Regions from separate parts of the Homo sapiens genome. Here regions 2, 3 and 4 are each linked to region 1. The links come from fine-mapping of genetic effects on gene expression. A gene starts in region 1. Each other region holds a variant in brackets. All regions are shown on one strand. Distances are between the middles of the regions. Region 1 holds the start of EPDR1 (ependymin related 1). Region 2 overlaps EPDR1 (ependymin related 1). Region 3 has its middle 54 kb from the start of EPDR1. Region 4 overlaps EPDR1 (ependymin related 1).

The links.
Region 2: its variant is fine-mapped to the expression of EPDR1 in lymphoblastoid cells (GENCORD, PIP 0.95).
Region 3: its variant is fine-mapped to the expression of EPDR1 in whole blood (INTERVAL, PIP above 0.99). The same link has a PIP of 0.9 or more in platelets.
Region 4: its variant is fine-mapped to the expression of EPDR1 in whole blood (TOPMed, PIP above 0.99).

The regions. Positions count from the first base shown.
Region 1 is chr7:37,917,649-37,925,302 of GRCh38, reverse strand. EPDR1 (ependymin related 1) reads right to left here and starts at 4,663. Exons shown (of 3, transcript NM_017549.5): 1 at 4,095-4,663. The coding sequence starts at 4,363. RefSeq lists a silencer at 3,969-4,418.
Region 2 is chr7:37,940,220-37,947,873 of GRCh38, reverse strand. All of the region lies in intron 1 of EPDR1 (ependymin related 1), which reads right to left. Among named protein-coding and RNA genes, the nearest start is that of EPDR1, 23 kb to the right of the region's middle. RefSeq lists an enhancer at 1-415 and a silencer at 3,353-3,647. The variant A/T (reference allele first, on the strand shown) is at 4,241.
Region 3 is chr7:37,970,939-37,978,592 of GRCh38, reverse strand. No RefSeq gene overlaps it. Among named protein-coding and RNA genes, the nearest start is that of EPDR1, 54 kb to the right of the region's middle. RefSeq lists a silencer at 2,992-3,286. The variant G/A (reference allele first, on the strand shown) is at 4,397.
Region 4 is chr7:37,951,525-37,959,178 of GRCh38, reverse strand. EPDR1 (ependymin related 1) reads right to left here. Exons shown (of 3, transcript NM_017549.5): 3 at 7,243-7,654. Among named protein-coding and RNA genes, the nearest start is that of EPDR1, 35 kb to the right of the region's middle. The variant A/C (reference allele first, on the strand shown) is at 3,559.

The sequences.
Region 1 (7,654 bases):
AGCCACCATTTTGTAAGGGGGAGCCTATAGTTACTGGTGGCCTGAGAGGGTTCATTGTGTATCAACGCTGCTTCCCCTATAAAGTTCAACATGCTGCCTGAAATATGAAAATCATCTTCTTGATTTCCTTCAGTCTTTCAAATAAATACTTGTGAATTTAATCAAGGAGTCAGAAAAGACAGTTGGAATTAGAAAATAAAATGGTATCAATTACTAATATTTCCCATTTGCTGCTCAGGCTTGTCTTATCTGAAGCTTGTAAAGTTGTTTAATCTTTTCCATCATCTCAGGGAAAACAGAGCCTGGAAAATCCTAGTCATTCCACAGTAACTATCAATGGGATTTTCCATAACTATCTGGATGCAAAATGAAAATCTTAAGAAGTTGATCCAATTCTAAAACTTACTTCTCAACTTACTCATAAATATGAAGAGACAACTCATCCATATTTTCTTCAAATAACATCTGGTTGCTTGGCCAGACTGTTAATACCTGAAAAAGTTTCTGAGTTTGTTCCAACAAATCTACACTTAAAGAGCTTAAAAATGTGTTTATGCATTAAACATTCTTTTCCACATCTGACTTAGGGCCAGCGATGTGACTGTCAGAAAGAACCTTGCCAAGAACTCGGAAAGAAAGGGAAAACAATGTCTTTTAGAAGTTTAACTGTGAAACCAGCACCTATTGGATTAGGGCAGAGGAATGAGAAATCACCGCAAAGGGACAAAAATGCTTCTAAGCCAGCAAGAGTTGGCTGTGACTCCACTAAAGGTATAAAACACACATCTAAAGGCTATATTAGTCAGTCATGGAGTCATGGAAGAAGGGTTGCTCAGACAGACTTGAGCAGTACTCACCAAGGGTCCATTCTGAGTGGAAGGGGTCAGGAACAGCACAGTTGGGGTAGCACAGAACCACCACCAAGTCATCTCTATTGTGAAAATCAATGCATCACTTTGCCTTTGCCTGATTACCATTAAACCTTACCCCAGGCTGGCCTGTCTTATTCATGATGGAAAACTCCACATTGAGCATACAGCCTAACCTAGGGCAGGCAATCATTAGATGTTTGCTCAATGAATTTGCTCCAACTCTTTGCTCACAACTGCCTGATGATAATTTGGCTCCCCACATAGTTCTGACTACAGGGAGAGAATGACCTAGTCTGGTGGATTTGAGAATGCTGGTCCTCATGCCAGCAATAAGACTCATTGAAGTAGACAGGTTTAGCATTTGAGTTTCCTTACTCGAAGGTTGTTCCCAAAGGAAGGGTCTGTGTGTGCTGCTGTATCAAGTTTCTGAGCCCAAAGGGCTGGCAGCAAGTCTCTGGGCTATGGTAACTTTACCAGGATAATGATGATAGTGGTAGCGATGGGACCAACCTTGGCCATGAACAGAGCATCTTGTGCGTACTATCAGACATTGTACTGTATGTTTTATACACTTGAGCTCATTTAATTCCCATAATAATCCAATAAATTAGGCATTATAAGTATTCACATTTTGTAAATGAGGATACTGAGACTCAGAAAGCTTTATTAACTTACCCAAAGACCCATATTCAGAGTCTGGATTCAGATCCAGATTTGTCTGACTCTAAAGTCTAATTTTTTTAATTGTAAAAAAAAAAATACTACCTTTGGAGAGATGAACCCTTATCCTTCTCTTTGACACACTCCTCTGCTTCAGCAGTGTGCTCTCGGCCATCCCAGTCCATCTTCAATATGACTATTCATCAATGCGCCACTACTGTACAAGTCTTCACATAAAATTACATAGGATACCAATGCACCCTTAATTAGAAGTGCACAAAGTCAAGCCCTGTTGCAAGGAACAGCATCACCATCTACCCTATGCCATCAGTACCATTAGCTTCACAAGCCAAAAATGGGGGCCTCTTTAACGTTTTCCTCTCCCTCACCACGCCTGCCACAACCCGTCCAATCATGTACATTTTCCTCAGTTGAACCTCTTCAATACTTCCCTAATGCATTCACTTGCCCCCTGTTCACCATTTCCATCGCTACTACCCATCTCTCACCTGGACCACTACGACAATCTCCAAGATTGTGTTCTCACTTCCACTTTTGCTCCACATGGCTCCATTTTGTGTCCACATCTTGGGAATGCATTCTTAAGGACACATCCAGGGATCTTTATATAATCTAATCACAAATTCCACTGTTTAAAACTCCTCAGTATGACCCTTCGCCATGTCCTGGGCTTCAGCCCTAATAGTGAGTGGTCTGTGGTTTTTGGAATTTACTCAGCTCTAAAAACTCCGGGATGGCACACACATACCAGGCATGGATACACCTGCATCCCCCTGGACCAGCAGTCTCTCCACATCTCCCTGGAAAACCTGTACAGGTGTTTTGGAACTCACTCTCATTTCAGCTCCTCCAGGAAGCCTGGGTTAGGTGCCCAACTGAGTTCTTCTCATCACAACCCCAGCTCTCACCCCTCATCCCACTGTATGGAAATTTTTTTTATTTATGTGACTTCACCTCCAGACTCTGACCTCCCTGAAAGCCAGGAGCCATTCTGTTTATACACAGTGCCTAACATGAACAAATGCTTGTTAAATAAATGAATGAATGTGAACCTGGTATACCATAGGCGTCAGAACCCCCCCCTAGCTTCCTCAAGCATTAGCTGTGTGATCTTAAGAAAGTTGCTTAATCTCCCTAGACCTCAGAGTTATTGTCTGTAAAATGGAGATCATAAAACCTATACTGTCAAGTTATTGTGAGATTTAAACTAAATTATATAATAGATGTAAAGTCCTCAGTGTCATGCCTCATATATAATAAGTATGCAACTGTTAGTTGTTATTATTATTACTGTGCCCTTCAAGACCCTACTGAAAACATTCATGTTCTTGAAAGACTTCGAATCAATTCCCAGTCCACCATGATGACTGTGCTGCTCTGTGCTGCATTTCATAATGCATTATTTTGCACCCTTGATATTGTTTGAAAGGGTCTGCCCTTTCCGTACTTTCTTCAAGTCGCCTAATACTTGAACAAATGCTTTTAGAATAAATGATATTATCAAGTTTGGTTTTGTTCTATAAACTAATGGTGCCCTTTTGCTATAGATCTTACAGTCCATTGGCGTTTCAAACCATGGAAATTCACTTTGCAACTCCTAATGATGCAAATGCCATAAAGAGAGGCCAGTGAGAGGAACACACTTAGGGGGAACGGCAGGGCTCTGGAAGGGAGACAGGTGGTGATCCCAAATTAGAAATCAGGTCTTAAAGGGGCCACAAGCGAGATGACATCTCAAAAAGAGGGTTTCCTTTGTCACAACAGATGTGAAAAGGTGAATGGTCAGACCAATACTTAAAAGAAACTTACAGCTTTGCCCCTGTAAGCGATACTGTGCAGCCATTAAAAATAGGAGGCAAGCTAATAAAATGGCAAATAAGAACATATAAGGGACAATGTTAAGTTAAAAAAAGATTCAGATAACGTATGGCTTTTGATCATAGTATGTAAAATTTGCTTTAAAATAAACAAAAAACTTAAAAGGAGTAGACCAAAATTTTAATGCTGTAACAATTTGCTAAGTTTGTGGGTGAAATTTTCTTTTTATCACTTTCCCATACCGTTTGTAATCTTGCCATATTCTTTTAAAATACAAAAAGTATTTCTTAGAAAATACATATTCTGCGTGCCTCTCTAGCAGATGTCTCTAGAAAGAAATGAGATAGCGCAGAAGACACGCCCTAGACTGCAGGGGGCTCCATGAGCCCAGAGCCTGACTCAGCAGCGTGAGAACAGGGGCGAACCTGGGCATGGGGCACTCTGCAGCTTGATCCCGCCCTGGATGGGTCCCTTCTTTACCTGCCACCGCCTCGCTGGGTGTTACTGAGTCCCCCGCCAGCAGGCCGCCCTCGGTGGGCGCAGCGCCCCTCCCAGTCCCGGACCATGCTATCCCCAAGAGACCCTCCTCGCGAAAGATCTCTCTGGGAGAAGGGAGGAGCTGCAAGGGGCCGGAAAGAGTTACAGGGCGCAGGCCTCTGCGACCTCGCCCTCCCCATGCCCGCGCGGCTCCCTACTCCCGCCCCGCGGGCCGATGACCTGTACCTCTTGCAGGGGATCAGCGCCTTCCTCTCGTCCAGCACCCGCACGCGCTGGTTGAGCCCGTCGTAGGAGAGCAGGGCGCGGCTGTTGCGCCCGCTACTTTGCTGGTACATAACCTGGCGCCCCTCCCACTGCTGCGGCGCCTGGCACGGGCGCGGGGCTCCCACCGCCCCCAGGCTGCACAGGCCGCACAGGGTCCAGGCCCAGAGGCCGCCCAGCAGCCAGGCACCCAGGGCGCCCGGGACGGTGCGGAGGGGAGCGCGTCCTGGCATCGCGGTCAGCCTTCCCCGGCCCGAGGGCAAGCCCAAGCCCAAGGGGGCGCTGAGGCGTCCGGGATCAGAGTGGCTCCCGCCGGCTCTTTCCGCACTGTGCCGGGAGTGTGGTCTGGACCAAAGTGCTTCCTGTCCCTTCGGTGGCCTCTGCCGCTTTTGAGATCCGGACGCGCGAGTCCCGGTAGCCGGGACCAGGGCCCGGGGAAGGCTCCAGTGAATCGCGCGGGAGCTATTTCTGCCTGGGCCACTGCCTGCTGCCACTGCCTGCTGCCACTGCCTTCTGCCGCTTCGGTTTTCACTGCTCACTGCTGCCAACAGGAAATGCAGTGGCAGTGGTGCCACTAGCATCCTGGGAGGCATCGTGTTTTAAGAGGGGGGATGGGGGGAGACTGTGCTGAGAAGTGTGTTTCTCCACTAACTTCAGTGTTCAACAGGTAATCACACAGGGAGGGGCAAGTTCAAGGTCAAGATAGGAAAAGCAGAGCTGCTGCGTTTGCTGTGCAAACGTTTGCCCCGCCTACATTGCCCCTCGACAAAATTGCAAACTTCTTCCTCCAAATTAAAAGTGGAAAGACGAGTCTTTTCCTGAAGAAATGATACTAGCTATTCATCATGGCCGCTCCTCAGCTCCCATTCCCAGTGAAGAGTCTAGGAGACTAGTAGACAGCCCCTTGCATTGGGCCTAGGACTCATGGACATAGCCTCAAGGTCACATTGCAGTGAGACTGCTCCTCCCATCGCCTGGCAATACCACCAGCCGAGTGGTTTGGGTGTCTGGGGGGTTTCGCTTCTTCAAGAATAAGGTTAATTGGGTTTATAGTTATGTAATGTTAGGATCTATAATATGGAATGAGCGAGGCTCACACACCTGTAGTCCCAGCTACTCCTGAGGCTGAAGTGGGAGGATCGCTTGAGCCCAGGAGTTAGAGGTTGCAGTGAGCTATGATCATGCCACTGCACTCCATCCAGCCTGGGTGACATGGCGAGACCCTGTCTCTAAAAATATAGTGATAAAGTATGAAATCAAGAAAAAAGAAAGGAACTAAAAAAATGTATAGCGTCTTTCCATTTGAACTGCATTTCAAGGATGATTAAGATTGAGCCAGGTGAAAGTGGGAGATAACATTCCTGAATGAAGGGCATAAGGACAAGAAAAGAATAATGCTGGGGTTCAAGGACAAGGTAGAGGAGTACTCTGAAGCCATAGCACTCATTTTAAGGAATTTGTCATTGATATTGAGGACTGTGGGAACTATCAATCAATGTAAAGCTAGGGAGGAGCATCATCAGGCATATGCTTTAGAAAGCCCACTTAGACAACAGAAAGGGTAGGGCCAGAGGGAAGGCAGGGAGAGGAGGAAGCTACTGTTATCATCCTGGAAAGAGATGATCCTGACTCAGCTAAGGCAGCGGGAGTGGTCATGGAAAGGGTGGAAGACAGGTGGGAGCTGTAGAGAAGCATTTCAACTCAGAGAGAGAGGTTTCTGGTTTGGGCCACTGGGAATCCAGTCCTGAGTGAGGAGAGATGATCAATTCATTTTAGGATTGGTTGATCTTGAGCTGACTGTGGAGTATTAAGGTGGAAATATCCAAGGGACAGCTGGATAAATACTTCTGGAAACCAGCAGAGCTTTTGGATTAGGAAGCCATAGGTACATAGGTGGTAAATGAAGCCGAAGAGTAGAACAGTGGTTCCTGGGGAAATTTCACATCCCCCTCCCCAGCAAAGAAACATTTGGCAATATCTGGAGACATTTTTGATGATCACAATGTAGATGGGGAGGAGGCTACCGCTGACATTTTGTGGGTAGAGGCCAAGGATGCTACTAAACTTCCTACAATGTGCAGTACAGCCACCTCCCCTCTCCCAAATGAAGAGAAAATTATCTGGCCCCAAATGTCCTAAGTGTTGGGGGTGAGAAAACCTGGAGTTCAGGGGAGTGTTGAGTGTGAGAAGAAGGATTAGGATGGAGCCCCAGAGAGCTCCAGACATTTAAAGGATGGGCAAAGAACAGGCACTTGAGGAGACCAAAAGGAGTCACCAGAGAGAAGCCACTGAATGAGGCAACTTCCCGAGCCTTGTTAAATAAATGTAAGGCATGGAAAGAATGGACTGAATGCTGAAGTAGGGTGTTCTAGAATCACAGCCTCCCTGGAAGTCCCGAAGAGGAGGGACAGTTGACAGGTTTTCCTGATGCATCCTTCTCTGCTGCCCCCTGTCTGTCGAACCACCAGAGACACTACCAATGGGCCGAATGGGGCAGGCACAAAGCTTTAGGAAGAAGGGCTCTTCATTTCCTCTTACCTTTTCTTAAAGGGCATGCCTCAGAGAACATCAGGGAAGCCCATAAGACTTTGTGACTTGGTACTTACATAGTTAAACAGATGCAGCAGGTTCAAACTGGCTGCAGAAATTTGAGCCCTCTCCGAGTTTGCCCTGCTCAGATTCATAGGAAAAGTGTAGGGTAGTTCAGCTCTTTCTCTTGCTCCCCAGGTAGGAACTCCAGCTGAAAATCTTTTTCACCCAGTGAAGGGTTTAGACTCATTGGAGTTTACTGCTAGAAATGGCTTGAGATGTCATCTGGGCTTTCCTCCTCATGTGATATTTTACTAGCCTGGCTTGGCATCTTTGGAGGTGGAGACTGGTTCTATAGGAACTAGATTACCTTTCTAGAGTGGCTTGGCAGTGTAAGAACACCCTGGGCTTCCCCTAAATAAGAACCAGACTCTTTGGATGAATCCTGAAATGTATTTGTCTCATTTATCCTTTTCACTTACTATGTTTAATTCATGTTCCCTAAAAAATAAGATAATGCATTTAAAGTTCTTAGCTTCATACCTTGACCATTGTAAATTCCCAATAGATGTCACTTGTGCTTGTTGTTTCCTCAGCTGTTTTAATCCTTAGTCTTTAGTTTTAATCCTCAGTCAAAACTAAACTAATTGTGTAGGTTTAAGCTTTGGAGAGAAAAACCATGTGCCTTAAATTCAAGTTAAACTATGTTTTTAAAGATTAACATTCAGAGAACATGTTTCCATATTGCTGATGCCCTAATAAATAGCATATACCAGAAGTCTTACCACCTGAAGATTGATATACATCAATCTCATATAAATAAATCCTCCCTTTTCTGTAGATAGCTGAGCCAGCAATTGGACTACCTTTTCCTAATGCAAGTAAGATAAAAGAGAAAGCAAAACATACATACTTGCATCCCATAGTACACAGCTTCTTACTCAACTCAAGCAACAGTCTCTGAGCACATCAAAAATCAAGATTTTAGGCTGCTG
Region 2 (7,654 bases), 23 kb before region 1:
CTGGGGAGTGACAGGGAGATATTCAGAGGCTGAGCCCAGGAGTCACCAGCCATGCAGTATTGGCATCAGTCCTGTATCTTCCTTAAAGCTGAGACATCTTGGTGTTGGGGGAAGCCTGCTGTGTTTCTATGCATTTCACTGTCAATCTAAAACTCAGGCCACAGCTGCTGGTCAAGAAAATGTGTCTTGCAGCCATGACCTCAGAAAGTGAAATCTGCAACACTTGAGGGCTGAAGAGCCTAGAGAAGTGACTTGTCATCAGCAAATAAAAATAGCCAACAAATTATCTGTGGCTTATGAGACCCAATGCACTAGAGGAGACTTCAGGGAAGACATTTGCTCTCCAGCCCAAGCCCGAGCTTAAAAACTATTTTCTTCGGAAAAAAATGTTAGAAATGGTTACTGTCTTTATAGTCAAAACACAGTCGTGCGTCACTTCATGATAGGCTTATGTTCTGAGAAATGTGTCATTAGGCTATTTCATCACTGCACGAACATCATAGAGTGCAGTTACACAAATCTGGATGGTACAGCCTACTACACAACAGGGCTACACAGTATGGCCTACTGCTCCCAGGGTACAAACCTGTACTGCATGTGACTGCACTAAATACTGGAGGCAACTGTAACACAATGGTAAGCATTTATGTATCTAAACATAGAAAAGGTGCAGTAAAAATATGGGATAAAATATAAAAAATGGTACGCATGTATAGGGTACTTGCCATGAATGGAGCCTGCAGGACTCGAAGTTGCTCTGGGTAGGTGAGTGAGTGAGTGAGTGGTGACAGAATGTGAAGGCCTAGGACATTTCTATACACTTCTGTAGGCTTTATAAACATTGTACACTTAGGCTACACTAAATTTATAAAAACTATGTTCCTTTCTTCAATAATACATTAATTTTAGCTTCCTGTAACTTTTTAACTTTATATACATTTTGATTTTTTAAACTTTTTGACTCTTTTGTAGTAAGACAGCTTAAAACACAAATTGCACAGCTATACAAAAATATTTTCTTTATGTCCTTATTTGATATGCTTTTTTCTATTTTAAAATTTATTTTATTAAAAAAAAAACTTTGTGTTAAAAATTACAACACAAACACAGATATTAGCCAGGCCTACACAAGGTTAGGATCATAAGTATCACCCTCTTTCACTCCCACATCTTGTCCCACTGGAAGGCTGTCAGGGCCAGTAACATGCATGGAGCTGTCACCTCCTATAATAACAATGTTTTCTTCTGGATACCTCCTGAAGGACCTGCCTGAGGCAGTTTCACAGTTACCTTTTATGTAAGTGGGAGCACACTCTAAAATAACGATAAAAGTATAATATAGTAATTACATACATGTGGCCAACAAACATAGGAAAAAAAGCCCAACATCACTGATCATTAGAAAAATGCACATCAAAAACACAAAAAGACACCATCTCATGCCAGTCAGAATGGCTATTAATAAAAAGTCAGAAAACAACAGATGCTGGCGAGGTTGTGGAGAAAAAGGAACACTTTTACACTGTTGATGGGAGTATAAATTAGTTCAACCATTGTGGAAGACAGCGTGGCAATTCCTCAAAGACCTAGAACCAGAAATACCATCAACCCACCAATCCCATTACTGTGTATATACCCCAAGGAATATAAATCATTCTATTCTAAAGATACATGCATACCTGTGTTCATTGCAGCACTATTCACAATAGCAAAGACGTGGAATCAACCTAAATGCCATCAATGATAGACTGAAAATGTGGATAAAGAAAATGGGGTACATATACACAATGGAATACTATGCAGCCATAAAAAGGAACAAGATCATGTCCTTTGCAGGGACATGGATGGAGTTGGAAGCCATTATCCTCAGCAAATTAACACAGAAACGGAAAAGCAAATACTGCATGTTCTCACTTATAAGCGGGAGCTGAATGATGAGAACAAATGGACGCGTCGGGGAAGCAACACACACTGGGGCCTGTTGGTGGAGCTTGGGGGAGGGGGAGCATCAGTAAGAATAGCTAATGGATGCTGGGCTTAATACCTAGGTGATGGGATGATCCGTGCAGCAAGATACCATGGCACACGTTCACTTGTGTAACAAATCTGCACATCCTGCACATGTACCCCTGACTTAGAATAAAAGTTGAAGAAAAAAAAGTATAATACAGTAATTACTTATATGCTAGAATTGTGTACAACTGACAGCACAGTAAGTTTGTTTACACCACCACCACCCCAGACATGTGAGTAATGCACTGCGCTACCACATACTATGGCTATGAGGTCACTAGGCAATGGAAGTTTTTCAGCTCCATTGTAATCTCATGGGACCACCACTTCATTGACTGAAACGTCATTATGAAGCACATCATTGTATTATTAGTAGCCGTATGCTTCAGGTTTCTATGAGGTAGTATGGAAATATAAACATGACATCATTTTACACCTTTATGTGTATCTTGTTTATTTCAGAAAAGATTTGAAACGGCTTACAAGGGTAAAAATAACCCAGACACATACCTTTAGAAATGAGAATGAATATAGAAAGAAATATAAGTGTGCATTTTATGAGATATTGCTCAAAAATGGAGCTAATTTTTTATAATATGCATGCAGGGTCAACGTAAAACTGTTAGCCCTTTGAAAAAGTTTGGGTTTGGATTGTCACTGTTTTCTCATAACCAGCTAAATCTCTGACACAATAGAGCCTAAGCACTGATTGAAGAAACACAGCAACATTAACCCAACTCTTAGAGCATTGTTCATTTGTAAATATGGGAATTGTTGTCCATACACAAATCCTGTCCTGTGATACTTTTAATGACCCGTGGGCCACCCAAAAAACAAGTTGTCTTCATTGTTCTCCTCACCACCAGCAATATCTTGTGCTTTCCCCAGTGCTAGATATCTGGGCTAGAAAGGCATTCCTAGCTTTTGCTGATATCCCTGTTGTGTGCTTCTCAGACTGCAATAGTTGTTCCCTGGAGAATATGTAGCCATGTGCAGGAGAGGGGGTTTCCTTCTTGAAATCATCGCCATCACTCCCCAAATCCACAGGATCACAGAAGTGTCATTAATATGGTTTGGCTGTGTCCCCACCTAAATCTCATCTTGAATTGTAGCTCCCATAATTCTCATGTGTCATGGGAGGGACCTGGGGGGAGGTAATTGAATAATGGGCACGGTTCTTTCCCATGCTTTTCTTCTGGTAGTGAATAAGTCTCACAAGGTCTGATGGTTTTATAAATGGGAATTCCCCTGCATAAGCTCTCTCTTGCCTGCCACCACGTAAGAAGTCCCTTTGCTCTTCCTTCTTCTGCCACTGTGAGTCCATTAAGCCTCTTTCCTTTATAAATTACCCAGTCTCAGGTATGTCTTTATTAGCAGCATGAGAACAGACTAATACAGTCCTCCTAGCCTCATATTTGTCATACATGTCATTCTAGCCTCATATTTACCTTCCTCACCAGAGTTTACTAGACCAGAGAGGAGACAATGAGATTCTTTCATCTCGACCTGTGTCATGGCAACCGAGGTCTAATAGTCAGCCTCTTATGTGGCTGGACATACCACATGTAAATTTCGAAGCTGAGGGAGGCTATTTTCCAAAACGCAAATGGAATAGGATTAAAGAATGAAGCAGAGAGAAGCACTAGCAAACTGGGATTCCAACAGCTGTTCATTTCCTGGGCTCTTTTTTTCTGAGATGCTTGGAGCACCCCCGCTTACAGAGTTACAATAAGCTTCCTTTGTTCTAATAAACTTTCCTTCATTTTTGGCTTGCAGCTTTTTATGCTACTCAGTTCTATCATTTCTGTTAGAATTGAGGACTCCAGTGCTCCATGGAGAGACCCGGGGAGCAGCTGCCAGCACAGCTGTGCTGGGAAAGGCCCAGCATGGCCCTGTGTGGCATCAAGGGCCACAGATGCCTGGTCAGTCACCTGCAACAGAAGGGCAGGGGACAGCAGGGAGGGAACACTCACAGCTTCACTGTTTCCCTGAGGCCCGCTCTGCCCACATACAGAAGTAAAATTTAATTTTAAAATGAGAATTTTAGACCCGGAACAATCACTATGAAATGTTAACATTTGCTAAATCTGGGTGGTCTGAACACAAGTGTTCGTTTTGGTGTTCTCTGTACTTTTCTATGTTTTCAAAATATTTGCTTTTTTAAAAGTAGACATCATCTGATATTGAGGTTATGTTGACTGTACCTCAAGTTAAACTGAAAATAATA[A/T]ATTAATGGAAAACAAAATAGAACTATATAATTTGTTTTCAAAATCCCATGTGGATATAAATGCTAGTACTGCTCTATGACAAATTTTAGAAAACATTTTAATGATACTGTAGTGGCGTGTGTGTTTATGTGAACATATTAACAGTTAGGACATAAGTCTCTGCATCACAAATAGAATACAGGGCCTGTGGCCTGACAGGGACCAAAGGTCAAAATGCAAAGATCAGCCACGGTTGAGATGAGTAATCAGAGTGGGGATGCTGTACGGGAATAACCCGTGGACCCAAGGGATTAACAGACTTTGAGAGGAATTGGATTCCTGGAGGCGAGATCAAAGACTGGCTCTGTCACAGAGGCAATTGTGAGATGAGAGGCACCAACGCCCCCGCTGGGGCACAGTCAAGCAAGGTGAGATGCTGGAATTGGTGTTCAGGACAGGGAGGCAGACCAGCCCAGGTCAACAACAGCAGACAAACTTCGCCTCCTTGCTGGCCAGGCACCAAGCAAAGCATAGTTCACTGGGAGGGGCAGGCGAGTTCCCACAAAGGCCCTGCTGCTGCTGAGCCTCAGCTGTGAGCAAGGTCAGGTTGGCTAGGCCCTGCCAAAGGCTCAGAAGGCCAAGCTCTCCACGGCAACCACAACACACAGGACGGGCCAGCGGCCTGTTTTGCTTCTCACCATATGGGACAAAGGATTTTTGTTGCTTTTACTAAAATTCTCAGGTTACATTGACAATTTCCATTGTTTCCTGCAAATCCATTTCCCTAAAAAGTAGGCTCTCGAATCACCATGTTTTCTGAAACACCGAAAATCTGGGGAAGTTTTCTTGCTTTTGAAAATAGTTTTTTTTTAGTAAAACAGATTCATGATCAATATAAAAAAATTAAGCAATCTAGGGATGGAAAGGGAAGCAAAAATTGCCAAGAAACTCTAATTTACAGAAATAACAACTCTGTACATGTGTCTGGACATATATTCTTCTAAATATGTCTTTATGTACGTATTAATTTTTATATCTAAATTTTTATGTTTTAATTGTGGCAAGATACATGTGACAAAAATGTACCATCTTAGCCATTTTTAAGTGTACAGTTCAGTAATGTTAAATATATTCACATTGTGGTACATCAGTCTCCAGAACTCTTGCAAAATTGAAACTCTATATCCATTAAACAATAATAACCCATTCCTCCCTCTCCCCAACTCCTGGCAACCACCATTCTATGAGTTTGGCTACTCTACATAGCTCATGTAAGTGGAATCACACAATATTTATTCTTTTCAGTCAATATAATATCTTCAAAGTTTATCTGCGCTGTAGCATGTGTTGGCATTTCCTTCCTTTTTAAGGCTGAATAACATCCCACTGTATGTATACACCATATTTTATTTATCCATTCATCCACTGATGGATTCCTAGGTGTTTCCTAACTTTTGGCTATTGTGAAAAATGCTGCTATAAACATAGGTGTACAAACATTGGATTGATTTTTCAATATGTACTATACTCATTTTACGCAAATGAGTGCCTATCATTTATTTGTTTTCTAACTATGCATTTTAAATTCAACAATTTGCCCTTGATAATCTTTTAAGTAAAAAGATAAATCTAATTTTTCTAATTTTTATTATAAAATATTTTAAATATGCAGAACAGTTGGAGAACTAGTATAATGACCACTTTTATGTCTGCCTCCTAGGCTCAACAATTCTCTACATTTTACTGTATTTTTTCTAGTTTTCTAAATACTTCCTTAAAACAAGAGCTTCTGCCACATGGTCACAATAGGACTGTATCTTAGAAATAAAAATTCATTCCCTGATATCTGCTCCATATTCAAGTGGCCCCCCAAATACATCTTAAAGCTGGTTTTTCAAATCAGAGTTCAATTAAAGTTCAAGCATTATATTTGGTTATGTCTCTATCAAAAATCTGGAGCAGTACTCCTACCTTTTTATTTTCCAACATGACATTGACTCTTTGAAGAGTTCAGGTTTGCAGATATTCCACAATGTGGATTTCTTTGGCAGTTTCCTCATGGTGGCATTTAAATTGCTATTTGAGCGTTTGTCATTCTTATGAAATGGATATGAAGTCTAAAGGCTCTTTTCGATTTGAGTTCCAAGATGTTTGTAAATAACATGTCATTGGTGAGGTTGTATACTTTGGACTTTATCATATCTGAAGACAGGTGATGTACCTTCCCACTATTAATGCTGCTAACTTTGATCACCAAGTTATATGGTGACTCCAGATATCTGTTATAAAAGTGTTTCCTTTTGCAATTGGCAAGTAATTGATGAGTGATACTTTGTGATGTTGGAAATGTCCTGTTACCCAATAACTGTCACCTAATGGTTTTAGGCAAATCCGTTTCCTGAATCAATTATTTCACTGGGAGTTAGGATCATAGTACCAATGGTATAGTAAATGACATCCATCTATCTTAGTCTATTGAGTACCACTCTGGACTCATGGATTTATTATTTATTCAATGTATGACAAACAATTAAAGTCATTATTCCTTTTGATGCTAAAATTTACCCAAGTTTGGCCAGAGGGAGCTCCTTCAAGTTGGTACATGTATCTTCTGACATAATCCTATTAGTCTCTGAGTGCTTCCCGATGTTCTACGACACAAGGTGGCACAGGCTAACCTTGGACTTTCCCTGTCCCAGATCTGAAATCAGGCATTTCTCTAAAAAACTCTAGTTACCCTTAGTGGGGAAACAACTTAGAAACTGACATCAGGGCACTAGATGGGCTCATTGCCATTGAGATGACATTGCTTTGAATGCTTTTCAAGTGGTCAGAGCTTCCAATTAGAAAAAAAAAACTCGAATTCATATAGATATTTTCCATTTAAATTAACATTACAGGTTTTCCCCCCTATTTTTTGTATATCTTTTATATATCTTTCCTCTTAAAATAAAAATCATGCTTCCTAAAAACATTAACAAAAACATTTATTTGCTTTATTCTATGATTTTGAAATAATAACTTCAAAACTATTATAAATAACAAAATTGCCAAGTGAAGTTTAAGATTTCATTGTAGTTCCTCTTATCCTTAGAATATAATTCCCTAGTATCGAGAGTCAGTATTGTGTCAAAAATTTACTTAGAATAAGCCTATTCTCTGTGTGGTTATGTTTCCAGATTGATAGATCATTAGGTTCCTTTGTTTTAGTTTGTTCCCAATTCAGGGACTTTACACTTTTCCTCTCTGATTTTATTATTTAAATATGTAAAAATTTTCATATTTCAAAACTCAAAATGACAGAAAATGGTACGTTGAGGCAAGTTCCCCTTCCATCCCTATCTCCTCTTCCCTATTCCTCATGCTCCTTATAGATAACACTTTTCAACTGCTTCCATTTTATTTTTCCTGCATGCCTGTCAAAAAATAAGCAA
Region 3 (7,654 bases), 53 kb before region 1:
AGGGAGTCAATGGGATGATAGAGAACCTGACAAGAACGGAGGTCAGGGTGACCTTCTGCATGGCTTGGAGGGATCACACAGAGAAGAGCAGAGATCATACTTGGAAAGAACTCAATCTCTGCCCTGAAGAAGACCATTATGGCCAGCCCAAGGGCAGTCAACAGGCGACAGAGCTAAGCCATGCTGAAGGCTGTCTGTCATGTTCAGTAGAGTGCTGCACTCTGTCCTGCCAAAGACAATTGCTAGCGTTGCTTTTCATTGTCCCCCGTGAAGGTTCTTCCTCTGATCGCTGCTTACAACTCATCCCATGAGCACCCAGTAGAAATGTCACCCGTGTACATCCTGATGTTTCAGTCAGCCCATCTCAACTGTACTATAAACATTTATCAATACCCCAGCACTTTTTAAGGCCCGTATAAGAAAGGGTAGAACTGTGGACACGGGAAGGGACCGGGTAGTGCAGAAGGAACCAGCAGCTCAACTTGGGTGGTTTCAGAAAAAACAAAACAAAAAAACAGTTCAAAACTTCACTTTGAGCCAGGACAGTGGAAAGAGCCACAGCTGTACCATTAGTGTCAGTATTTTTAGCAGAACCTACCTCCCTTAGGCTTCAACTTCTCTTACTGGAAAATTGCAACCACTCGTTAACTGATCTCCCTGAATCTGTTCTCTCCACCCTCCAGTCTTTTCTGTACATTGCTTGCAACAATTATCTTCCAAAAAATCAAATGTGGTCATGTTGCTCCTCTAGAAATTTTTATTACCTTGTTGTTACATACAAGAGGAAGGCCAGACTCAGCAGCATTAACTGTACTGCCCTTCAAAACCGAATCCCAGTCAAAATTTTAGCCTCATCCTATGCTGGTGTTTTAACTTGTATTTCAGCCATTCCAAACAGGGGAGAGCTTTTTCATACAATTGAATATTCACTTACTGTTCTTCCTCCTAGATTATCATGAACTTGGTTCTCTGCCCAGCAAACTCCTTCCCATCTCAACCTCTTCTCATGAACCTACAAAAATTATTTCCTTTCTCTGCCATTTACCGAGGTGCTTCATTCAGACTCACTTAAAGGCATCTGTCAGATCCTTGTATCATGATTTGCTCATGTGTCTCTCTCACCACTGGACTGACAACTTGAGAGCAGTGACTTCCTTCCACTTCCTCCTAGGAGCCACCCTATAAATGTTTGTTGAATGACTTAGTCCACAATGAGTGATACAGCTGACTAATATGAAACTAAAATGACCTTTGTTCACACAACAAACTACATTATTTTGTTGTTATTGTTCTGATCCAGTTTTTTTTGTACTTAGAAATTTATTTTATTTGTTCATCATGCATCGTTTCTCCAGATTTGGCCAATCGTTCCAGCCTGACAAGATAGTTTTATGTATCACCTTTTTAAAATTTTGAGTGTTATCCAAGGAATAACATCTCTTTCAGCTGCATCTTCAGCAACATTTATTATTGTGCCATCAATTTCCTCATCCAAGTTATAAATAACAATTCTGGACAGAGTGTTTTACATGACATTTATCTTATCTTCTCTAGGATTATACTTATTTCTTCTTTTCTTTTATCAACTGGATTGTGAACTCCTCAAGATGGGCATCATAGATCTCTCATGTTTATATTTTTTTAACTTTCTTGATTTTAGTAAATGCTACAGAATATCCAATGTCCCTTGATAATGGTGGCAGAAAGCTGATTCTGGATTCAGATGACCTAGGATCAGATCACAGTTCCCCACCTGGGTGTCAACTTAGACAAGTTCTTCAAACCCTTCAAGCTATCGATATAACATTTTCTCATATACAAAATGTGGAAAATAGTAGTACTTACATCATAGAATTGTCTTGAGTGAATAAAACAGATAATGTATATAGAACATTTAATACTATACTTAATACAGAGTAAATGTTTAATATAATAATAGAGATTATTAGAGGTGTTGAATAAAATAAATAATGGAAATATCAATGTCATCAAATCTGCTAATTTATTCATCACTGTCTATTTGCTAGGGCTGCCATTACAAAGTACCACAGTCTGGGTGGCTTCAGCAACAGAAATCTATTTTCTCACAATTCTGAGGCCCGATGTTTTGAGACCTTTATTCTTGGTTAGCAGATGGTCATCTTTTCCTTGCATCTTCATGTGGTCTTTCCTCTGTACATGTCTGTGTTCTACTCTCATCTACTTATAAGGACCCCAGTTTTATTGGATTACAGCCCACACCAATGAACTCCATTAACCTTATTTATCTCTTTAAAGACCCAATCTTGAAATACAGTCACATTCTTAAGCACTGAGGTTTAGGATACCAAACATGAATTTTTTGGGGTGGAACACAATTCGGGCTATGACAATCCGCAATAGAGGTCACACCCATTATAAGTAATATCTAAGTAGCCATAACCAACTGTATAACCAATAACAACTTCCTGGCTCTTCTTTTGTTTCTTTGTTTTTTTTTTGAGATGAGGTCTCACTCTGTCACCAGGCTGGAGTGCAGTGGCATGATCTTGGCTCACTGCAGCCATAATCTCCAGGGCTCAAACGGTCCTCCCGCCTCGGCCTCCAGAGTAATTGGGACTACAGGTATGTGCCACCACACCTGGCTAATTTTTTTATTTTTTAAATTTTTTGTAGAGACAGGGTTTCCTCGTGTTACCTAGGCTGGCCTCAAACTCCTGGCCTCAAACAATCCACCGACTCTGGCCTCCCAAAGGGCTGGGATTACAAGCATGAGCCACCATGCCTGGCCACTTGCCCTTCTTTTAAAAGGATTATATGTCCCCACCTTCTGCAATTTGATTGGCAGTGCCTCCAATGGAAGGGATAAATATTCATGCCCATTGCCGTCAGGCTCAGCCATGTGACTTGATTTGGTCCACGCAAAGTGAGTGTGTGTGCACACTTCACTACCAAGCAGAAGTTTTAAGAGCCATTGATTGTTTTCTTTAGCTATCTTACTCTTTTCTGTCTGCCACAAGGACCATATATCTCAAATAAGCGCTGCTCCTTCAGCCTAGTGCCCAGAATGAGCACTTTTTAGCTTTCAATGAGACATATTGGGCAGAGCTGCCTAGATAAGAAGCTGCTGCTAATGCACAAAGTCAAGTGACAAGTATATGGTTTTGGTTAAGTCACTGGGATTTGGAGGGATTGCTACTGCACTAAAGCTGCCGAATGTGATAACCAACAATGTATTATCCACAGATGCATATATAGCTCATTCGTTTTCCTTAAATTAATGGAAGGAATAGAAACCTGATATGCCATTGATAAGGTAATTCTAATAAACCCACACTGCAAAAAGAGGAGCAGGGTATCAAAAATTTCATGAGGGATCAAAGACTTATTTATTGGACATTGGACATTCTTAGTACTTTTCCCATTTATATTATATGTAAGAACATGGGAGCTTCCCTCATGCGTAAATTTTCTCTCGAATATACAGGAATTACAGATTTTGCAGGCAGAATGGCAGCTTTTCAGCCCTGCTTTCCTTGTTCTGGAGAGAAATCTTCTTCTGTTCTTGGAGAATCACAGTGGATACAGAAAGTAGGAACTGTCTGCTCTCACTTGGCAAACACAAAGGCTCTGTAATGCGGTAGCACTTCACTCACACCAGTATCAAATTTACCAAAACACATGCTAGGTTCACAACTCAATTAAAGAACCATTCTTCAACTTTCTCTTATTTCCCAGTTTCTAAGTGAACGTGACAACTGAGCCAAAATGTAAGGAATGAGCAGGATTTGAGCTGCTCAGACAGGAGAAAGACATTTAAGGCAGATGGTGCAGCTTAAACAAAGGCACGAAGTATGTTGGAATATAAGCCGTTGAGGGTGGTTGGAGCAGAGGGTAGAGGAGTGGCTACAGATAGGATTGACAACTTAGCTGGAGGACCACCCTTGGAGGCCAGTGTCCTTGGTTCTACACCAGAGCACAACTCAACAAACAATGGGTAAACACTTTTAAGTTTTATGGATCATAAATTTATATGTTTCTACCTGATTTTAAAATGACTTCTCCATAATAAATACATCATTTTGCATAGCAGTTAAAAACATGGGTATTTTCAGCAGACAGCTGAATTCCATACTATAGCTTCTCCATGGGTGTGCCCTACTGAACCTGGGTACATTGATTAACCTACCTGAGGCTCAGTTACTTCTTCTGAATAATGGTGGTAATAGTGATCATCATCCTTCTATAATGAGGATCATTGGCTATAAAGATGCATGTAAATTCTTGGCAAAATATCAGTGTCAAAAGTAAAAGTTCCAGAAATGGTGCTTTCTGAAACTGTTGTTATCACCATTGTTCAGAAATGAAAGCTTAGTCATATGCCCCTATGAGGTTTGACCACCTACACCCCTTAGTC[G/A]TGCTCTGACATTCTAAATACTGCTTCTTATCTGTCCTACAAGGTGCTTAAGACAAAGTCAGGAAGAGACATGACAATTCCTTGATTGATGTGGACTAAATGCAGAGCCATAGTTATGCCTCTCAGTGCCTGTCTCAACTCAAACAGGGCTAAGCTCACACAGTTCAAAGGCAGCTCAGCTGAAGGCCTGTCTTTCCATGGTGACCACACCAGATACAATCATGGAGCAGGAAAGAAAGAGAATGTCCCTGATGACTCCTGTTCTGGAGACTCTCTGGGAAATCAGTCTTCTTGGCCACTATCAAGGCTTGGGGGCAGCTTGGATTGAAAACTGTGGCACTGCATTAGTAGGCAACTTTCCTCCATGAAAATATTATTTTTCTTTCCTTTATTGAATTACTGGCTTCATTATTTTGAAATTTATTTGGGAGAGGAAATTTCTGCCTTCCTTGAATTAAAACCTGTGGTTAGGCAGCGGTTCTTTTGTACGTATGACGTTTGCTAGGGTTTTGAAGAAAGGAAGGGATGAAGGAAAAGAAAATGATGAGGATAAAACCACCAGTTGTCTTATTTCTTCTTAAATATTTTCTAGTTTCAGATGAAAGTGTTTGATCACTGAGTATTTAAAACAATATTGTACTGTGAGAATTTTGAGAGAGTGTTGTCAGAGAAATGAGGAATGGCATGATCCAGAATCATTTTTCCCTTTTCCCACAAAAATGAAAACATGAGCACAGGGCTTAAATGGACAGTAAACATTGGTATTTTTTTTTTGCACTATTTCCCCAAAATCTAACCAGAAAAGTTACTTCCCTTATCAATCACATAATCTTAATAAATTATATTGACCTAGTTTATGATATGGAATATCAGTTGGAGTGTCCTAGCTGCTTTTTTATTGCTGATGGGTTGAGTGTTCCCCTTAAATAACACATTTCTATTAGGTGATACTGACTATTCTAGATAATGTTGTTTTAAATAAATGAATTACAGCAATCAGTTCTCTCTCTCTCTCTCTCTCTCCCATATCTCCTCTATTTTCCTCTCTGTCTGTCTCTTCTTCTTCTTTCCTTCTGTTCTCTTTCTGAAATTCTTTTGTTTATCTACCATTCATTCATTTAATCTACATTTACTAGCACTTAAAGAAGCTTGGAGAACAGAGCAGGGAAGACTTGGAAAGAATCATAATTCAGAAAGATACAGCAGCCCCTCATCAATCATAAAGGTAAGATTTCTCAAAATAGTCAAGGGAAAAAATTAAGTTCTTAAAGGCATAAATCAGATGAGTGTTTTGAACTAACATGCAGGCCTTTTAAACTGCCTATTTTTATTACCTGCAATAACCAAAATAGAATGTCCTCTGTTTTTCCTATTTTCAAACTTCAAGTTCATGACTACCTCTGACTGGGTTCACTGAGTTTCCAGAGACACAGAGTGGTTTGACTTTTGGTGTGAAGGGTGAGAAAAAAATTATTTTAATAACTGGTTAACTTGGTTTGCTTATTAGGCAAATAAATTGATACATATCTCTGCCTAATTTTTAGGATATAGCATGATGTTGATGACAGGTGGGGAATTACCTGTTCATCATTGAAGCTCCAGAAGATGTGAGATGCTCAGCTCAGAGTCTGTTTGCCAGGTGTTTCTTCTCACATGGCCTGGAGGGAGGGGTGGGATGACTTATAAATATGCTTCTGCCAAGGAGACAGTGAATGCCCAGACTGGAGTATATTTCTTAAAAAAAAAATACCCGCAGAGTTGGATTAAAGGAAAGATATGTGTTTACATCCATTTTGGTGTATTACTACCCTATTAACAATAAATGCTTTTATGTTTATGTTCTGTTAAAAAAAATCATACCAGTAGTCAACTCTCATGGAAACAACTGACTTAATTAGCAAAATACCTTAATTAACCACTTGAGATTAGGAGCTGAGTCACTGAGAGCATTGGTTAGAAAACAACAGGACATTAAAGAAAGAGCTCAACTGCTCTCAGTTAGAAAAACACAGGAATATGGGAATGAGAGAGGAGAAAAGAAAGAAGATTTTTTTTTTAAAGAGATGACCAAGTCACGTGCCTACAATTTCCATGAGAATTTTCAGAAATTTTTATGTCCAATCTTAGGGTGCATTCTGTACTGCCTGTAAGCTCCTTCTATCTGCCTAAAATTGCAGTAAAGACCTTGAGTAATTTGTTTCTTTGTAAAAATAATAGAAAGGGGTTGGATCTATGTTCAATCAGTGCCAAGATGTGAATAACAAAAAATAGCAGCAAGCATGGGGCATGGAATGATTCACCGGTACCTGGAAGTCACGGCTAGAGCTTATTATGAGGACATAAACCTCCCCAAGAATTTAAAGTGCATGGGTAATGGAGGCAAAATTCTGGGCAGTAAGGAAAAGAAATCCAGAAGTAGAGACACATTTATTGGAATTACCCAACAAAGAAACTCACTGCTGGGGAGTGATTACTGTATATTCCTAATGGAGATTTGCACAAAACCTTTTGGAGTCCCCAAGGATAGAATGACTAACTGAGTTGAACAGAAAGGAATTCGCCCTATGTATGAGAATTTGGTTGAATGACCACTTGCTCAATGTAGTCCGTTAATGATGACTAAAGCAGACAGTTCTTGCTAGACAAAATTTCCTTCAAATTCCTCAATATAACACTCCTGCTAGGGGGATAAGTACAATCCGCTAATGAGAGCCATTGCTGGAGTGCCCAAAGGCCATTCTCTGATTGGATTCTCCTCTCCATGTCCTCTCTAAAATCTCCCCTGTCCTACAGGGCTTCAGCGTTGGAGCATCTGAGTACCAGCCAGGTAGACAAGTATGAGGAGTTTGCTTTCAGTCATAAAGCATTCAAGGACCTGAAATAAGTCCAGGAAGACCACCCTTTGGTGTCCCAGGAGGAAAATCCTTAATTAGTATTGAGTTAGAGCCAGTAAAAATAAGTTCCCACATCCAAGAGTATAAGCTGAGCCAAATCAGGAAGAGAAACCTAGACTAGAAGGAAAAAAAATTGTAATAAGATGGGAGAAATTTAAGGGATAGGACAGAGGAGATTGTCTCAGTTGAACTGATGGGTCCCTGGCTTATATGTATTTGCTGTCAGCCATTTGGTTTGGGTTTCTGGCTGTGTTGGTTCAACTTAAACGTACAGGTTCAGTACAAGTTGTGCAAAGAAAAAGCACAGAGAACTCAATGGTAGCTGAGTCCTCACAAGAGTGACAGAACCCAGAATGACACAGAA
Region 4 (7,654 bases), 34 kb before region 1:
GAGGCCGAGGCGGGTGGATCATGAGGTCAGGAGATCGAGACCATCCTGGCTAACAAGGTGAAACCCCGTCTCTACTAAAAATACAAAAAATTAGCCGGGCGCGGTGGCGGGCGCCTGTAGTCCCAGCTACTCGGGAGGCTGAGGCAGGAGAATGGCGTGAACCCGGGAAGCGGAGCTTGCAGTGAGCCGAGATTGCGCCACTGCAGTCCGCAGTCCGGCCTGGGCGACAGAGCGAGACTCCGTCTCAAAAAAAAAAAAAAAAAAAAAAATGTTATGTGCAAAATGCCAGGGTTCATGAGAGATGTATTTATTAAGGGGAAGTTGCTGGGGTTTTTTTTTAAACTACATGTATATTATACTTGACGTTGCCTGAGCATGGCTAGAGGTGGGTGCATGTTTCTGCACACGAATGTGAGCAATGAGGAACAGACAGAGATACCTTAGGGAATGGTTTAGCTGACGGGTCCAGCAGAGCCCACTGAGGGCACTGCCTTTGTAGGCCTCCAGGACCCTGCTCTAATCCATAGCAGATTCATACAGTCATACAGGTTTGATTTTGTTGGTCCATGGAGGGTTGATCAGGATCTCAGGGGGAAAGAAGCCAGAGGTAGAAGACATCTAATATTTTGAGTGCTGATTGCCTGCAAAGCTGTGTGCTACACACGTTCTAATGCTATTTCATTTAACCCTAACAACCCCCATATGCCACCTTTTTTGTTTGTTCGTTTGTTTGTTAGAAGTGGAGGAAACTTAGGTTCATAGACTGTTCAAATGACTTGTCCACGGTAACACAGTGGTAATGGCGGACAGAATCAGCATCTGAACTCAGGTAAGTATGGTTTCAAATCCTCATCCTTTCTACTACACTGCACAGCCTCCCTTACAGACTGACATGCACTAAGCAATTTAACTTAAGAGACTGGGAAATAAATCAGAAAAACATTGCATTATTTTGCAATGATGTTTTAAACTTTTCCAGTGAGTGAAATACTTAAATCTGCCATTTTGGATATTCAGTTATGATTTTAAAAAATTACTTGAGAAGTAAAATTTCTAATCAGAAGAAAAGTTACCTAGTTTGGAGGGATCATTCTGAGCTTATTGGATTCTGCTTGACCAACAGGCCTGGCCAAATCTCTCTGTTTTGGATGTTCCTCCCATGCAGGTTAGCTACTGCTCTGACCAGCCCAAGGTCTGAGGAAGGCAGCATTGGGCACCAAGGCACAAACTTCTTTCCTTGTCCTTGCTCCTTTTCCTCTGTCGCCAGTGGGTCTACTCTGTGTGCCCTTTTGCTGACCTGGGAGCGGTAAGATCTACTTGTGTTGGGACTTGCAGTAGAATGGACAGAACTAGTAATTTGGCCTGCTCTGGCCTGCGGCTACTTTGGCCTCCACTTCCTCCAGTTGGTCTAGCCTGATTGACCAGACGTCCACAGAAGTGCTCGGGGCCAGAGCTCCAGCTAAGTAACGGTGATGACTTGCTTTGCTGTCTCCTGACCTTGCTCTGTTGTGGATCCCTGACAGGGAGAGTGAAGTGAAATATTCCTAAATCTTAGGCAAAATAATGACACATGACTTTAATCTCATAATTGTCCCCAACATTCTGTATATGACTGCCAGATTCCACATTTTTCTCTCCTGGACACAGTTAGATAAACACTGCCAAATCCTTGGTTTTAAGATTCCCTAACTAAACTCCATGTAAACCAACATCCTTCTGCGAAAACACTTCATTTTCAGACGAAATTACAACATTCCAGTGTTCTTTTACATCAGCCCCAATTCTGATTAAACTTTGATGAGACTGCATTTCAATGGCAATCTTGCTTTCATCGGACTTCATGATTTCTCCAGTTTTATAGCCCCAAACTTGAAGACCTTCTCTTTCTGTGATGTATATCTCTAAATAGCTACTTTATCCATTTATTAGGTATCAGTCCTATATTTTCAATCACAGAGCTTAATCTTATTTCCAACTTTGGGGCACCTAAATTTAGTCTATTTATGCCTGACTTTGTTAAGTTGATTTGTTGATGACCACTCTTCTAGAGACACATGGAAAATTTGTTAACAAACTTATTTTTGAACAGGATGGTTGTACTGAATGATTACATATGGCAGGAGTCTGGGGAAAATTTTTACTTATCTCCATTCTAGGGACATCTACTGCAAATTCCATAATAGACTCTCATTCCTCTATTATCTGAGCTATTTGAATTACCTCAATAAAGCTGTTTCCTCCTCTTTCTTCACTCAGGAAATACAGAGTTCTCATGACTGAACAGGGAAAGTAAGAGGTTTAGAAAGAATAAGATGGATCTGAGAGTTTTCAAAATCACTTGATAACCCATTATTATCCAAAGACTACCTACATAATCATATACTTTCCATACAAAGTTAAACTTAAAAAGTCCTTTGAGGTTCAATACCTACACACTTGAATACACCATAATACTGAACTTTAGTTGTTTTGAGAAGACAAAATAAAACTCATTTTAAATGTATTGAACTGAAAAGGCAGAGAAATTATTCCCTGAACAAGCAGGCTTTCTTTTTAAGGCTATTTTTATTCCTCATTGAATGTCAACATGTACTATGAGGTACATAGACATGGAAATAATTCTAAATTTCTGACAGGCGGGGCCAATGGTTCATGGTTCAGGAAAGAACGTTTAGTCTGGAAATGCTCTAATTTAGAGAAACTTAAAGGGGAGGCAACTGAACTGAAAATCTCTAAAGTGCTGCTCCATTGTGGCTTGTGCTACTCTCATGTTTATTCATCTGTATACATCAACAGCCCTTTGGACTGAGAATTTATGGTGATAAATGTTTTCTCCTCCTCCCCTACATCCTTCTTTTTTCTTCTTCCATTCCTCTTCCTTCTCTTTCTTCTTCTCTTCTTCCTCTTCTTTTTCTCTTCTCCTTCTCCTTCTCCCTCTTCCTCTTCCTCTTCCTCCTCTTCCTCTTCCTCCTCCTCCTCCTCTTATTCTTCTTCCTCTTCCTCTTCTTCTTCTTCTTCTTCTTCCTCTTCTTCTTCGTGTCCTCCTCCTCCCCTTCCTGCTCCTTCTTCTTCACCTCTTTTTGCTGCTTGGGATATAGTTAGTTTGAGCTAGATAGGATTATAGGATTGCTATCATCATGATATTTTTTGTATTAAGGATAGGACATATATGGATCTAAGTAACGTCTTCAGTCCCAAGATGTTTGAAGTTTTAAAATACATCTAAACATCTTTGCAGTGCTATTAGTTATTTTTTATGTGATAAGAGTTATGGTGATAGGAACATAGGTTTACCTGGAGGAAATTATGAAAGGTGTTAAGTACAGGGAGGTTTAAGTTATAAGAAACATCATAAAAACATACACTTTTCCTGGGCTTGAGATGATGTCATTTTGCCCACTCCCATTATTCTAATGTCCACTTTAAGGTTATTAAAATGTCCTAAGATCATTCAAGACAGGGCAGTCTACATCTTCACTTCATTATCCCCAAGCCCTCAGAGATGCCACAGCTACTGAGACAAGGTCACCTAACACTTTAGAATCAGAAAGTTCTTTA[A/C]AAGCAAAGGGCTCTTCTGAAAAGAGACTAAATTGCAACTGCTTCCCGTATGTGCCCATCAACTAATGTGATCACAGAACTGCTTTAGAAACAACTTTTATCTTAGTTTTTTCCTCATCAAAGATTTTCAATTTAGTTTTTACACATTTTAATTTTTCTTAAAAAAGAATCCCCCATTTTATAATTGAATTTAATATAAAACTAAGCTTTGCTAAAATGCACTTATATAATAAGAGAGGACAGATATACCACGATCCCGCAAGAAAGGTATCATTTCTGGTATCAGGAGTGAAACAAAACCAACAGACCCTAAGTTTTTCTAATACATATATCAATACCCACATGTCTATCCCAAAACTACACTTTTAATTAAGCAGGTTTGTGTATTTGGTTAACTGGGGACTTTTCAATAGTTAGATTGGTGCCTCCTGATTGGGAAACTAAGACCAGTGATTTCCCAACAGGTATTCTCCCAGGCTGACTGAGAAACTAATCAACTAGGGCTGAGAGGTTATTAAGTAACATATTCTAGGCTTGAAAACCCATTTCTCACAATAACAGATAATGCCTTGACTTCTTTTTTTTACATAATTTTCTTTATTAAAATCATAGAGGTTATGTAAAAATGGCAATAATGCTAGTAATGTTTAAGTAACAAGAGTACCTATTTTGCCATCAGTTATCTTGGTGAAGGAAAGGAATACTTAGCTGTGTGATTTAAACAGTTGTATGTTAAAATAAATATACAATATGCCATTGGGAATGATATAACTGCAACCACAACACAACACATGCATATACTCAGATTACTTAAATCCTGAGTGTGTTGTATTCATTGCACATTATTTCTTTTTAAAAAAGTTATTATTATTATTTATTATTATACTTTAAGTTCTGGGGTACATGTGCAGAACGTGCAGGTTTGTTACATAGATATACACGTGCTGTGGTGGTTTGCTGCACCCATCAACCCATCATCTACATTAGATATTTCTCTTAATGCTATCCCTCCCCTAGCCCCCCACCCCCTGGCAGGCCCCAGTGTGTGATGTTCCCTTCCCTGTGTCCATGCGTTCTCATTGTTCAACTCCCACTTATGAGTGAGAACATGTGGTGGTTGGTTTTCTGTTCTTGTGTTAGTTTGCTGAGAATGATGGTTTCCAGCTTCATCCATGTCCCTACAAAGGACATAAACTCATTCTTTTTTATGGCTGCATAGTATTCCATGGTGTATATGTGCCACATTTTCTTTATCTAGTCTAACATTGATGGGTATTTGGGTTGGTTCCAAGTCTTTGATATTATTTCTAAATTATAGGATAGTTATAGCCCACTCCTTGAATGCTGAGACTACATTATATTTTCCAACTTTAAATATGAAATAAATATTGAAAATAAGTGTTCATTTTTGCTCTAATGAAAACAGTATAAATTTTAAAATTAGGATATCATTAAGGGAAGCATCTCTCTCCCTGAATAAACTATACAACAAATCATAGGCCCAGTATTTTTTCTACACATGCAGTTGAGCTAATAATTCTGCTTTAAAACAAATAAAAATATGTTCTAATCATTTATTATCTTAGCATCATTCCAAAAAGAGATGGTTGTTGATATCAGAATATCCATAAATAAAGTTAAATTTGTCTCTTAAAGAGGTGTTCACCTACAAAGCCTTCAAATATCACCAGTTATTCACAAGTCTTTGGCTGAGGAGGCTTACTCTGTCATTCAATATAAATTATTTTCACTCAACAAGAATGACAAGAATGGCATTCCTGCATTTGAGGTGCTTTCTGTGGATGTAGAAAGACAAGATCTACGTAAGTGGAAAAATGTAAAAACACCCCATATGCTGCAGGTAGATATATAGGCAAAGTGATTTAAAATAACAGAGGCAACATTGAGAAAATGAAGGCTTTTATTTGTTTGTTTGTTTGTTTGTTTGTTTGCTTATTTGAGACAGGGTCTCTCTCTGTTGCCCAGGTTGGAGTGCAGTGGTGCAATCTTGGCTCACTGCAATCTCCACCTCCTGGGGTCAAGCGATTCTCCCAGCTCAGCCTCCTGAGTAGCTGGGACTGCAGAGAAAGTGGATTTGGTAAAGGAAACCCAGCAAGAGGTGAGCGTTTTGTTTTCAAATTATGTCAAATTTAATTTGGCGGGAAATTATTAGTAGTTAATTGAAAAATTTCCCAAAGACCTAAAATTCTTGGCCTTCATTAAATATTTAAAGAATTTTAAAATGTGTCCCAATTTTAGGAATCTCAATTAGCAAAGCTTATGGTAAGAAACTCACCCTGATGACAGAGCAATTGGGGACAGAAAGGCTGGGCCTCCTTGACTCCACATGGCCCATGAGATAGGGGGAGTGAAGGCTCTGTCGTAGAGCTGGGCCTTCAGGGTGGCAGAGTTGAAGGCAGGTGTATGTCAAGCACACCCTGGGGCTTGCCTGGATCCTGGCAATTTGGAAGTGGCAAGGCTTCATTTGGAGAAGTAGAAGTAAATTGTTCCAGTGCAGCATAAAGTTCAGAGACATATGAGGTGGGGTATCCACAAAGTGGTACCCAGCCCTGGCTCAGACCACTATCAGTGATACCACCTCTGCAGATGAGTGAGGCACTGGGATACTGCACTTTATTAATAGGTACAAGTCCACACCTATTTAATAGCCCTCTTCGTTGTGACTCTGGTGGCCACTAGAAAGTTTTTACATAAGACTGCAGAGTAAGGAAACCTTCCTGCCACCAAGAGGTGACCCAGCCATTACTCCTCAAGCCCTTTGGGCATTTAGGGAAAGAAGAAACTGTGCCAAGGAGTGAGGCTGGGAAGACTCAGAGGCCTGATGAAAAAGGGTGTGTCCACCATGCTATGGGGTCTCCACTTTACTTGTAAGCAGTGAAGAACCACAGAGGCAGGGCGCCATCAGATCAGATGTGACCAGATGTCAAATCCTTCTGGACTTTTTACTCCTTTCTGTGAAGTGGCTTAATAACCAAAACAGGCCAACTGAAAAACAAAAGGGTACCCACTTTGCATGGGCCTCCATAAAATAAAAGGAGTTTCCTTCTCTCTCTGAGTAAGGTTGTGGCCTGCAATGGGCAAAGACAAAGTCCCAGGGCTAAGGAGAGATGTGCAGCTTGGAGAGGAGAGGATCATTCTGTGGTTGGGGAGACAGGAAGTGTGGCAAACATGGTCACAAAGGCGTTAGCAGGCTGGGCCACCTAGAATGCAGCTGCGAAACTCTTCCCTGTCTGTGAGGTTCAGATGCCTGCATGGCCAAACTTCACAATCCTCTGCAACCCCAGGAACCTGCATGGGCACTGGAGGGAGCAGGTGCTTAGTACTGGCTTGTGATTTGGCTGACCAAGTGAATGAATGAATGAATGAATGAACACAGGATGGCTTCTAGAGAAAAAAGACGAGGGCAAGGACAGAGGGTGTGAAGATCCTGCAAAGGCCAATGATGTTAAGAGCCCAGAGCTGGGTGGTGGCTGAGGGAGTGGAGAAGAGGCAGAAGTTTTAAGAGCTATTTTGATAGGACTCGGGATATTGACTGCCAGTGAGGACTGAGGGAGACAAATGGATCAAGAATGACTTGGAAGCTTCTGGCCTTGGCAAATGGACACTGGAGTTTAGGGAAGGTAAGAGGGAGAGCAGGCTTTTGAGAGAGGATAACAAATTTGATTTTGATCACATGAAGCACTTTATTTATTACAGCATTGTTTTAACTCCCTTATAACCAAGATTATCCATATTTATTGCAAAAGCAACAGTATCAAAGAATGCTTTAAAATGCAATTAAATTTGTTTAATATAGATAAACTATAAGTAATGAGATTGTTTTCATTATAATATAGGTGTCACACATTTCTCCTGGTAACTAAGAAAGATAAATGGGCAGATAAAACATAACAGTAGAAGCATCTAGAATAGTAAATTTTATTACTGGAAGTCTCTCCCTAGCAATGGACAAACTCAACCACATTCAACACATAAGGAAACCAGGGACAAGAGAGGCTGGCATTCTTCACTCTACGAATACTTAGGGCACTGACTATGTGCCAGGCACTTGCTTTGTGCTAGGGATATAAAAGTA